Homo sapiens: one gene and its partners. The gene in region 3 interacts genetically with the main gene of each other region. Each region holds a gene or a part of one and is shown on either strand. Other genes may lie near its edges.

The links.
Region 1: changes in CDK12 (region 3) and TIMM23B together harm fitness less than expected from each alone (positive genetic interaction), as found in Homo sapiens cells (one large-scale study listed by BioGRID).
Region 2: changes in CDK12 (region 3) and ACVRL1 together harm fitness more than expected from each alone (negative genetic interaction), as found in Homo sapiens cells (one large-scale study listed by BioGRID).

The regions. Positions count from the first base shown.
Region 1 is NC_000010.11:49,969,445-49,973,094, reverse strand, and holds part of TIMM23B (mitochondrial import inner membrane translocase subunit Tim23B), read right to left. Parts: intron 3,054-3,650; exon of another isoform or gene 2,637-3,053; intron 84-2,636; coding exon 31-83; 3' UTR 1-30. UniProt on the Homo sapiens protein: May participate in the translocation of transit peptide-containing proteins across the mitochondrial inner membrane. the PAM complex.
Region 2 is NC_000012.12:51,920,683-51,924,011, reverse strand, and holds the end of ACVRL1 (activin receptor type-1-like isoform 1 precursor), read right to left. Parts: intron 3,254-3,329; coding exon 3,119-3,253; 3' UTR 651-3,118; downstream 1-650. UniProt on the Homo sapiens protein: Type I receptor for TGF-beta family ligands BMP9/GDF2 and BMP10 and important regulator of normal blood vessel development. On ligand binding, forms a receptor complex consisting of two type II and two type I transmembrane serine/threonine kinases.
Region 3 is NC_000017.11:39,464,436-39,468,085, reverse strand, and holds part of CDK12 (cyclin-dependent kinase 12), read right to left. Parts: intron 1-3,650. UniProt on the Homo sapiens protein: Cyclin-dependent kinase that phosphorylates the C-terminal domain (CTD) of the large subunit of RNA polymerase II (POLR2A), thereby acting as a key regulator of transcription elongation.

The DNA of each region.
Region 1 (3,650 bases), on a different chromosome or scaffold from region 3:
TGGGATTGACACACACCTCTACAGCTGGGTTCAGGAGCCAGACAGCAGCACACAGAACGGGGAATCCAAAGCCATCTCTGACACTAAAAGCAATGAAAACAAAAATAACCAAACATATTATCAAGAAATGAACAAGAGATTGATATCAAGTAAAGCAAGAAGAGAAGAAAGCATTTAATCTGCCAGGCTTTCATTCTGACAAAATAATTTACAACATGCATGTCTCTATCTGACATGAGTGAATAGAAAAAGAACCCAAATACCCAGTTGAATTGCAAGATGAAAATGAAAAAGAACTCTTGCTTATTCGCCAGGGTACAATCTAATCTGGGCTACTAAAACACTTTCATGCACTGATTCTATGTAACACATGCTTTATTGCCATTTGGAAATGGGATTTCTTGCTTTGATTTAAATATACTTCCTTGGATTTGTGCTTTAAGTATACTTTCTTAAACATATTCACAGCTACATTCTCAGTACAAATTTTCAGGTGTAAGTAACTACTTCTGCTTTTGATAGTATAATTGGTGAAATAAGCTATACTTCCATGTAAATGTGAGAGTACAAGGTAAGATTCCAGAGTCAAGTAAAACATAACAGTCAAGAAAATAAAAAGGTGAGAGTAACTGGGCAGTGGGGAAATCTTGTGTGTGGAAAGAATGAATCTGTAAAACTGTTCTTTCCTAAGAGAGTTCAGCAGGATTTGGATGATAGAGAGCTTTGTGTACAAGGGTTCCAGTTCCACATAGTTTAGGTCTAATTTCAAAGGCAACTTCTAGTGCAACCTGTGACTCACGCTGTCCTAAAGTGCCGAATGTAAAGGGTCTGGAGATAACCCACAAGCAGCACTGTGAACCCCTGACAGCAAGCCTTTCCAGATAAATACCTGTCAGTGTCTACAGCTGATGACAGAGCAGAATATCTGAAAAATAATACTTCTTCGGCCAGTGGACTGCCAGTCACTATTATTTAGTGTAAAATACTATATTACATATGTGTAATTTTTTAAATTGCAGTGTTTCACATCGAAGCAATTAAATATAAAAACCAAATGTTTATTCAGCTTAAAGGCAACTTAGAAATACTGATCCCAGATAGAAAGATGCTTTAGTCCCAAGTCAGCTGTTCTAAAATGCCACAACTAAACCAACGAAGGGATCTTGAAGCATAGTAAGTGTTCATACCTTTTCAGCTATACCTCTGCTTGTCTTGAATATAAAAACCTAAGCTGCAGTTATGCCACAGCACAGAATGTGTTATATTTTACATCACTGAGCCTTAGTTTTACAAATGGTAAAAAATAGGGAAGGTAAACTGAGGTTTTCTTAAGGAGCTGTTACATCCAAGAGACTCATGAAAATCTTTGCCAAATGTCCCCGGTACATAGCTCCTCCCCACTGATGGGCTCAACGGGGAGAAGCTATGCACATGTCTCAATTTGCATATGCTCAATGGCAATACAGGATTCCTAGGATAAAGTAAGGGATATAAATGACACAGCACACTGAAAAGACTGTAATGTTACTTCAGAATGTTGCAAAATAAAGATCACAGATGAAAGTTTTAGTTCACTGAAGCATGTAGTCATGTATATTTCATTTGTGTGTTTTAAAGTCTTATACTGCTTACATTCTCTTTTTTTGTTTGTTTTAAAATAATTATATTTGGCTACAAAGATCAATAACAAGGATGATGTCAGTCCAGGTTGGACAGGCAGTTCTGGGGCAGATGTTCTTGCAGTATTTTTTTTTTTTTTTTTTAGTATTTATTGATCATTCTTGGGTGTTTCTCGGAGAAGGGGATTTGGCAGGGTCATAGGACAATAGTGGAGGGAAGGTCAGCAGATAAACATGTGAACAAGGGTCTCTGGTTTTCCTAGGCAGAGGACCCTGCGGCCTTCCGCAGTTTTTGTGTCCCTGGGTACTTGAGATTAGGGAGCGGTGATGACTCTCAAGGAGCATGCTGCCTTCAAGCATCTGTTTAACAAAGCACATCTTGCACCGCTCTTAATCCATTTAACCCTGAGTGGACACAGCACATGTTTCAGAGAGCACCGGGTTGGGGGTAAGGTCATAGATCAACAGCATCCCAAGGCAGAAGAATTTTTCTTAGTACAGAACGAAATGGAGTCTCCTATGTCTACTTCCCTCCACACAGACACAGCAACAATCCGATTTCTCTATCTTTTCCCCACATTTCCCCCTTTTCTATTCAACAAAACCGCCATCGTCATCATGGCCCATTCTCAATGAGCTGTTGGGTACACCTCCCAGATGGGGTGGCGGCCGGGCAGAGGGGCTCCTCACTTCCCAGAAGGGGTGGCCGGGCAGAGGCGCCCCCCACCTCCCAGACGGGGCGGCAGCCGGGCAGAGGCGCCCCCCACCTCCCTCCCGGATGGGGTGGCTGGCGGGGCAGGGGCTGCCCCCCACCTCCCTCCCGGACGGGGCAGCTGGCCGGGCGGGGGCTGCCCCCCCACCTCCCGGACGGGGCGGCTGCCGGGCGGAGGGGCTCCTCACTTCTCAGAAGGGGCAGCTGCTGGGCGGCGGGGCTCCTCACTTCTCAGACAGGGCAGCTGCCAGGCGGAGGGGCTCCTCACTTCTCAGACAGGGCGGCTGGGCAGAGACGCTCCTCACCTCCCAGACGGGGTCGCGGCCAGGCAGAGGCGCTCCTCACATCCCAGACGGGGCGGCGGGGCAGAGGCGCTCCCCTCATCTCAGACGATGGGTGGCCGGGCCGAGACGCTCCTCACTTCCTAGACGGGATGGCAGCCGGGAAAAGGCGCTCCTCACTTCCCAGACTGGGCAGCCCGGGCAGAGGGGCTCCTCACATCCCAGACGATGGGCGGCCAGGCAGAGACGCTCCTCACTTCCCAGACGGGGTGGCAGCCGGGCAGAGGCTGCAATCTCGGCACTTTGGGAGGCCAAGGCAGGCGGCTGGGAGGTGGAGGTTGTAGCTAGCCGAGATCACGCCACTGCACTCCAGCCTGGGCAACATTGAGCACTGAGTGAACGAGACTCCATCTGCAATCCCGGCACCTCGGGAGGCCGAGGCTGGCAGATCACTCGCGGTTAGGAGCTGGAGACCAGCCCGGCCAACATGGCGAAACCCCGTCTCCACCAAAAAAAATACAAAAACCAGTCAGGCGTGGCGGCGTGCACCTGCAATCGCAGGCACTCAGCAGGCTGAGGCAGGAGAATCAGGCAGGGAGGGTGCAGTGAGCCGAGATGGCAGCAGTACAGTCCAGCTTCGGCTCGGCATCAGAGGGAGACCATGGAAAGAGAGGGAGAGGGAGACCGTGGGGAGAGGGAGAGGGAGACCGTGGGGAGAGGGAGAGTGAGAGGGAGAGCCAGAATTTTCTTTTTAAAGGCAGAATAATATTCTATGTATATACCACATTTTTCTTTTTTTGAGACAGGGTCACCTAGGCTGGAGTGCAGTGGCATGATCACGGCTCACTGCAGCCTTGACCTCCCCAAGCTCAAGTGATCTTCCCACCTCAGCCTCGGGAGTAGCATGTACCACCATGCTTAGCTCATTTTTTGTATTTTTAGTAGCTATGTTGTCCAGGCTAGTCTCCAACTCCTGGGCTCAAGCAATCTGTCCATTTGCCTGCCTTGGCCTCTTAGAATCTATCTTTTTTTTTTTTT
Region 2 (3,329 bases), on a different chromosome or scaffold from region 3:
AGGACCCTCTCAGCTTCTTTTAGTATCTGCCTCCCCCACAGCATGTCCCCGCCCCGAATTTCCGGGTGTGAGAATGGGATGTGTGTGTGAAGTGCCTTCTGATCCCAGGACAAGGTAGGTCCCCAGGGAAGGGGATCTTCCCATGCTGGGAATGGGGACTGACTCCTGGCAAGATGGGGACCCCATTTGAGAAGGGAAGTGAGAACAAGGAATTGAGGAGGGAGGGTCCAAGCTGCCGGTTCGGAAGCAGAACGCTCTTCGCTAGGTGTGGTATTAGGGGGACAGTCCCTGCAGAACAGCAAGTCAGTGAGCACACAGACGTTGGCCCCCGGGTGCGGGGAAGGCTGCCCCACCCTGCCGGGAAAGGCCCCGCGGTCCCTGTGTGGGGATGGGAGGCGGCCGCTGGGCAGCCCTCGGCCAGCAGAGGGCGACGTGGCAGGTGCGGCGACTAGGCTGCTCCCAATCTGGGGTAGGAACTGAGATTTGGGCCCCCGCGGGGGTCTGAGCAGGGGCGTGAGGAAACTGTGACCTGTCTAAGGGCAAAGCTGGGCGTGTATCCTGGGACCCTCTTCTCCCCGGATCCCTCTGGTTTTATCTGGACCTCTGCGACGGGCCACTGCAGAGGCATCGGCCTGGGAAGACTCCGGAGCTCAGGATTTAACCATGGTTTATTGCAGACCTATTGTGTGCCAGGCATGAGCCCAGTGCTCCCACAAACAGCGTCTCCAGGTACGAGAAGTGTAATTTCGACCCTGGAACACCTTCCTGCACTCAGACAGAAGCATGTGCAGACTGCTCTCAGCAACGCCACCTCCTTCACTCCCTGGCCATTGGGCCCCCTTCTCTCTACCTGTCCCCTGTCACTCCACTTCCTGCCCCAGGCCTTCTCTTAGGGATTTTCCAGGCTTTGGGGAGCTGCTGCTTTCAGTTTCTGGCTGTGGGGTCTCAGCAGGAGTTTGTTCCAAAACCCAGTAGAAATAAAATCCTTCAAGAGGGAGATGATTCGTGGGCTGGGTGGATTCCAGTGACCAGAGGACGTGCAAACTCTGCCCTAATGATCTGGGAACCTAGCCCATCCATTGAGCTTTCTGTTTTCACCCAGTTTCACTTCCTGGTTCTCTTCCGAGCCTTGCACAATGCTGGGAGACAGGCCTAGAAAAGTGCCACCATGAGGATGGTGGAAGACACACATAAGATGCCGGCCTGGGGAGGCTACTCTGGGTCATTACAGCAGGAGCGGGGAGAGCTTTCTTCACTGCCCTGCCCCTAGGCTGAGGACGACTAAGGCCAGGTCTTCCCAACCTTGGGGCTGTCCTTGTCCATAGCCTGAGTCTCCACCCCCGCTCCTTATATTCCTCAAGCTCCCCTCCAATCCACTTCCCTGCAGCCCACTTCCCTGCACCCAGGGACCAGGACAACCTGCTCCATACGTGAGCATACATACATCCTTGAAATTTCCAAATGCCAAACTTTCTGTGTGTCTCTCTAGAGCCATTGAATTCTCCTGAGACACACTCTCTGGGCCTGGCCAGGGGTGTGGGCCTGAGCCAGGGGCCAGTAGGGGAGCTGGAGCCTTCTTGGATGGAGCCAAATTTCTTTTGAGCCTTGGAAGCCTTGGAGGAAGCCGCCCTGCAGTCCTGGGGCAGAGAAGACTATGCCACAGAGAGGGCGAGGGGCTGGCTTGTGGTCAAAAGGCCCAGAGCTGTCTGAGCCCAAGGGTGGCCACTGGCATGGTTTTAGGCAAGAACTGGAGCTTGCAGACTTAGACTAGGAGGTGCTCCAGACACTCCTTGAGTCAGGTAAAGTTATTTTCAAACCCCCATCTTGAGGCAAATTGCCAGGGGCTGGAGCATAAGGAATAGATGAGACTGAAGAAGTTAGCTGTGATATAGGCTGAAGTGTCAGAGAACTAGAGCTAAAGAAGCCTCAAAGGACATCAGGACCAAATCTTCCAATATGTAGATAAGAAACAAAGGTCCTGGCCAGGCGCGATGGCTCACACCTGTAACCCCAGCACTTTGGGAGGCTGAGGTAGGTGGAACACCTGAGGTCAGGAGTTCGAGACCAGCATGGCCAGCATGGTGAAACCCTGTTTCTACTAAATATACAAAATTAGCCAGGCATGGTGGCATGTGCCTGTAATCCCAGCTACTCGGGAGTCTGAGGCAAGAGAATGATTTGAACCTGGGAGGTAGACGTTGCGGTGAGCTGGGATCATGCCATTGCACTCTAGCCTGGACAACAAGAGCGAAACTCCGTGTCAAAAAAAAAAAGAAGGAAAAAAGAAAAGAAAAGGTCCTGAGACAGGCCTGCTTTTGTCACATGGAGCAAACATCCGGGGTCAGACCTGGGTCTCTTGACACCCACTGACCTTCCCCCTGCCATGCTTGGCCTCGATATCCTCTCAGTTAATCTGAAAGTCCTGGGCCTTGCCCATCTGACCTGCCCTTTTTCCACTGGCCTGTGATCCTGCCACACCTCAGTAGGACCTCTTAGGATTTAATGCCCTAGTAAGTCAGGCCCCAGCTCTCTCAGGCAGCTGACATTCAGCAAGCTGCACTCTTGTTGAGGAGACAGAAAGCCCAAGGCATCATGGAGCTGAGATACAAATCCACAGAGAGAAACTGATGGGCCCTGGCTCTCTGGAGCTTATGCTAGAGGCTGAGGCCTGGCAGGGAAGTGTGTGCCAGGGGCTGGACAGGGCCCTGTGCCACCCTGGCAGCTCTGGTGGGGCAGTGGGGTTGATCAAGGGCAGGGGGCAAAGTGCAGGCCCGGGCTCTGAGTCTGGGACTGGGATTCCCTGGCTTGGCACTCTGACTCTGGAGCCTCTTTTGCATCCTGTCCCGGGAGTGGTAGGGGGTGCACCATGCTGGCCATAGGGGTGGGGAGAGAGCCAGGCGTCAGGGAGCCTGCCGCTTTGAGCAGGCCAGACAGCAGGGGATCAGGTTTCAGCCCAGCTGTATTTTTGGCTGGGTGGGCTGGGGGCCGAGCAGGCAGGCGCAGCTGCCCATCCCCAGCACACACCACACTCACACTACCTCTACCCAGATAGGGCACCATCCACTGCCCCCCACCCCCCCAGCCCCCTGCAGGCAGAAAGGAATCAGGTGCTCCTGGGCTATTGAATCACTTTAGGCTTCTCTGGACTGTTGCTAATTTTTTGTAGTGTCTTCTTGATCCGCAGCGCGGTGAGTCGGGCAGAGGGGTTTGGGTACCAGCACTCCCGCATCATCTGAGCTAGGCCTGAGAGGACCTGGGGGTTGGGAGAGAGGTGCAGAGGAGAGGAGGCAGAGAGAGAGATGCAGAGAAGAGGAGGGGGTCGGGAGAGA
Region 3 (3,650 bases):
CAGCTCTACTAAAAATACAAAAAAATTAGCCGGGCATGGTGGTGTGCGCCTGTAATCCCAGCTGCTCGGGAGGCTAAGGCAGGAGAATTGCTTGAACCCGGGAGGCGGAGGTTGCAGTAAGCCAAGATCACGCCACTGCACTCCAGCCTGGGTGACAGAGAGACACTCCATCTCAAAAAAAAAAACAAAACTAAAAATATTGTTGGAATCAATAGGACTAAAAAACAACAACGCAAACATGAACATGAGAATATAAAATACTGAAAGGTACTGATATTGACCAAATATGCACTTACCCTTAAGAAAACTAACATTCCTTCTGTACATATTTGGCTGAAACAAGAGTTTTTCTCTGCTTGAAATACAGCTAAGTAACATCTCTATCCCAGGGAAAACATGTAAAACCCAAAACACTAATGCCAGCTAGCTACCAAGTACTACTGTTTTAGTCAGCATGACCAAATCTTCCTAAGGAAGTCTGTTAGAAACCCTTCAATTTCTCACAGAAGCCTACTGTTAACAGATTTGGATGGCCATATACTTGTGGTATTTTTAGTGATACAAATGCTACATTTAAGTTCCAGGTTCACTCTTCTAGAAAAAAGCGGAGGAGTAGACAACAAATAGGTAAACACAGCCAGCAATAAGCAATGTGTCTTCAAGAAATGTCTTCAAAAACAAATGTATTTCCCCCCCACTCACCGAATTAAGTTAGGTTCCACTCAACTATTAATCATTGCTAATCTAGCGGATGCAAAGACACTGCATTTCTGCCAAAGCATTTTCAGTCTTTTAAAATTAGGTTGTTTCGCCGGGCATGGTGGCTCATGCCTGTAATCCCAGCGCTTTGGGAGGCTGAGGCAGGCAGATCCTGAGGTCAAGAGATCAAGACCATCCTGGCCAACATGGTGAAACCCCGTCTCTACTAAAAATACAAAAATTAGCTGGGCATGGTGACGCGCGCCTGTAGTCCCAGCTACTTGGGAGGCTGAGGCAGGAGAATCGCTTGAACCTGGGAGGCGGAGGTTGCAGTGAGCTGAGATCGCACCACTGCACTCCAGCCTGGCGACAGAAACTCTGTCTCAAATTAAAAAAATAAAATAAAATAAAATAAAATAAAATGTTGCTTATTTCATTTTGACTGTCTCCCAAGGAAAAAAACACAAGAGAATATCATAGAAGGGATCTATATGTTCCTCTGACTCTACAAAATTTTTGTACTGTTTAGAATTTCAATCAATGAAGAAAAACATGTAATGCACACATACAAACATATAATGCTCTCTATAAGCCAACTAAAAGCGTGCATGTGTCTCTGGGAATATTATATGTTTATATTTGCATGCTACGCTACCATATTGTGTCTCCAATTTTTTCTAAACTTATTTTTACCATTACTGACTAAATTATGTGAGTAGAGATTCATCTGCTTTTTTTTTTTTTTTTTTTTTTTTTTTTTTTTTTTTTTTTCAGATAGAGTTTCACTCTTGTTGCCCAGGATGGAGTGCAATTATTGCAATCGCGGCTCACCTCAACCTCCTCCTCCTGGGTTCAAGCAATTCTCCTGCCTCAGCCTCCCAAGTAGCTGGGATTACAGGCATGTGACACCACGCCCAGCTAATTTTGTATTTTTAGTAGAGAAAGGGTTTCTCCATGTTGGTCAGGCTGGTCTCGAACTCCCGACCTCAGGTGATCCGCCTGCCTCAGCCTCCCAAAGTGCTAGGATTACAGGCGTGATCCACTGCGCCTGGCCTTTTTCTTTCTTTTTTTTTTTTTTTGAGACGCAGTCTCATTCTGTCGCCCAGGCTGGAGTGCAGTGGCGTGACTTTGGCTCACTATAACCTCTGCCTCCCAGGTTCAAGCGATTCTCCTGCCTCAGCCTCCCGAGTAGCTGGGATTATAGGTGCATGCCACCACGCCTGGCTAATTTTTGTATTTTTAGTAGGGACGGGGTTTCACCACGCTGGCCAGGCTGGTCTCAAACTCCTGACCTCAGGAGATCTGCCCGCCTTGGCCTCCCAAAGTGCTTGGGATTATAGGCATAAGCCACCACGCCCAGCCTCCTCTACTCTCTTAAGAGAACATGAGATATGCTGTTTTACCTAAGAATCCAAAAGGAATCACTAGAAAGAAGCACTTCTTACTGAAACTCCTTTTAGTGTTTTAGTCTTAGCACACTCTTCTCTATTCCCATACCCTAAAGTTAACAATTTTTACAGCCTTAATGAACTACTCTATCAAGAAACAAATATCCTAAGAATACTTTTTAGACTTCCTTAAAACACTAAGCAGCATGGCTGTGCGCATTGGCTCACGCCTGTAATCCCAGCACTTTAGGAGGCCGAGGCTGGCGGATCACCTGAGGTCAGGAGTTGGAGACCAACCTGGCCAACATGGTAAAGCCCTGTCTCTACTAAAAAAACACAAAAATTAGCCAGATGTGATGGTGGGCGCTTGTAATTCCAGCTACTCTCAGGAGGCTGAGGCAGGAGAATAGCTTGAACCCGAGAGGCAGAGGTTGCAGTGAACCGAGATCGCTCCACTGCACTCCAGCCTGGGCAACAAAACAAGACTCTGTCTCAAAAAAAAACAAAAAACAAAGCAGCTTTACAAATGCTACACTTAAGACTTAGGCATTTTACTGTATATAAATTTTACTCCTCACCCCTCCAAAAAAAAAAAAAGGGTAATCCAGCTAATGGTAAACATGTTAAAGTGTTTAGAATGAAGTATACTGATGTCTACAACTTACTTTGAAATAAATGAAAATAAAAGATAGATTAATGGACAGGTAGATAGATTACAAAATACATGGCTTTTTTTTTTTTTTTTTTAAGACTGAGTCTTACTCTGTCTCTGTCACCTAGGCTGGAGTGCAATGGCACGATCTCAGCTCACTGCAACCTCTGCCTCCCGGGCTCAACTGATTCTCCTGCCTCAGCCTTCCGAGTAGCTGGGACTACAGGCGCACGCCACCACACCCAACTAATTTTTTATATTTTTATAGAGACAGCATTTCACCACATTGGCCACGCTGGTCTCAAACTCCCTACCTCGTGATCCGCCCACCTCGGCCTCCCAAAGTGCTGAGATTACAGGTGTGAGCCACTCCTGGCCCAATTTTTTTTTTTTTTGAGACAGGGTCTCACTCTGTTGCTCAGGCTGGAGTGCAGTGGTGTGATCACAGCTCACTGCAGCCTTGACTTCCTAGGCTCAAGCAATCCTCCCACCTCAGCCTCCCAGGCAGTGGGGACTACAGATGTGCACCACCGCGACCAGCTAATTTTTTTTTTTTTCCTGTAGAGAACGGGGCCTCACTATGTTGCCCAGCCTGGATACAGCAAATATTTATTGTAGAATCTTGCTGTTACATATATGGGTGTTCACTACAACCTTTCTGTGCTGGAAAATTTTTTATAATAAAATGGAGGAGGAAACATTAAGAACTCCAGCCCTTGACAGCTAGGAACACTCTGCAGCTTGATGTACTCACACCATTTATGAATTGTAACTTTAAGTCAGCAAAAATTACACTGAAATACAAAAGCCATGCATGAGCCAGGCGTGGTGGCTCATGCCTGTAATCCCAGCACTTTGGGAGGCAGGAGGATTGCTTGAGCTCAGGAGTTCAAGACCATCCTGGGCAACAG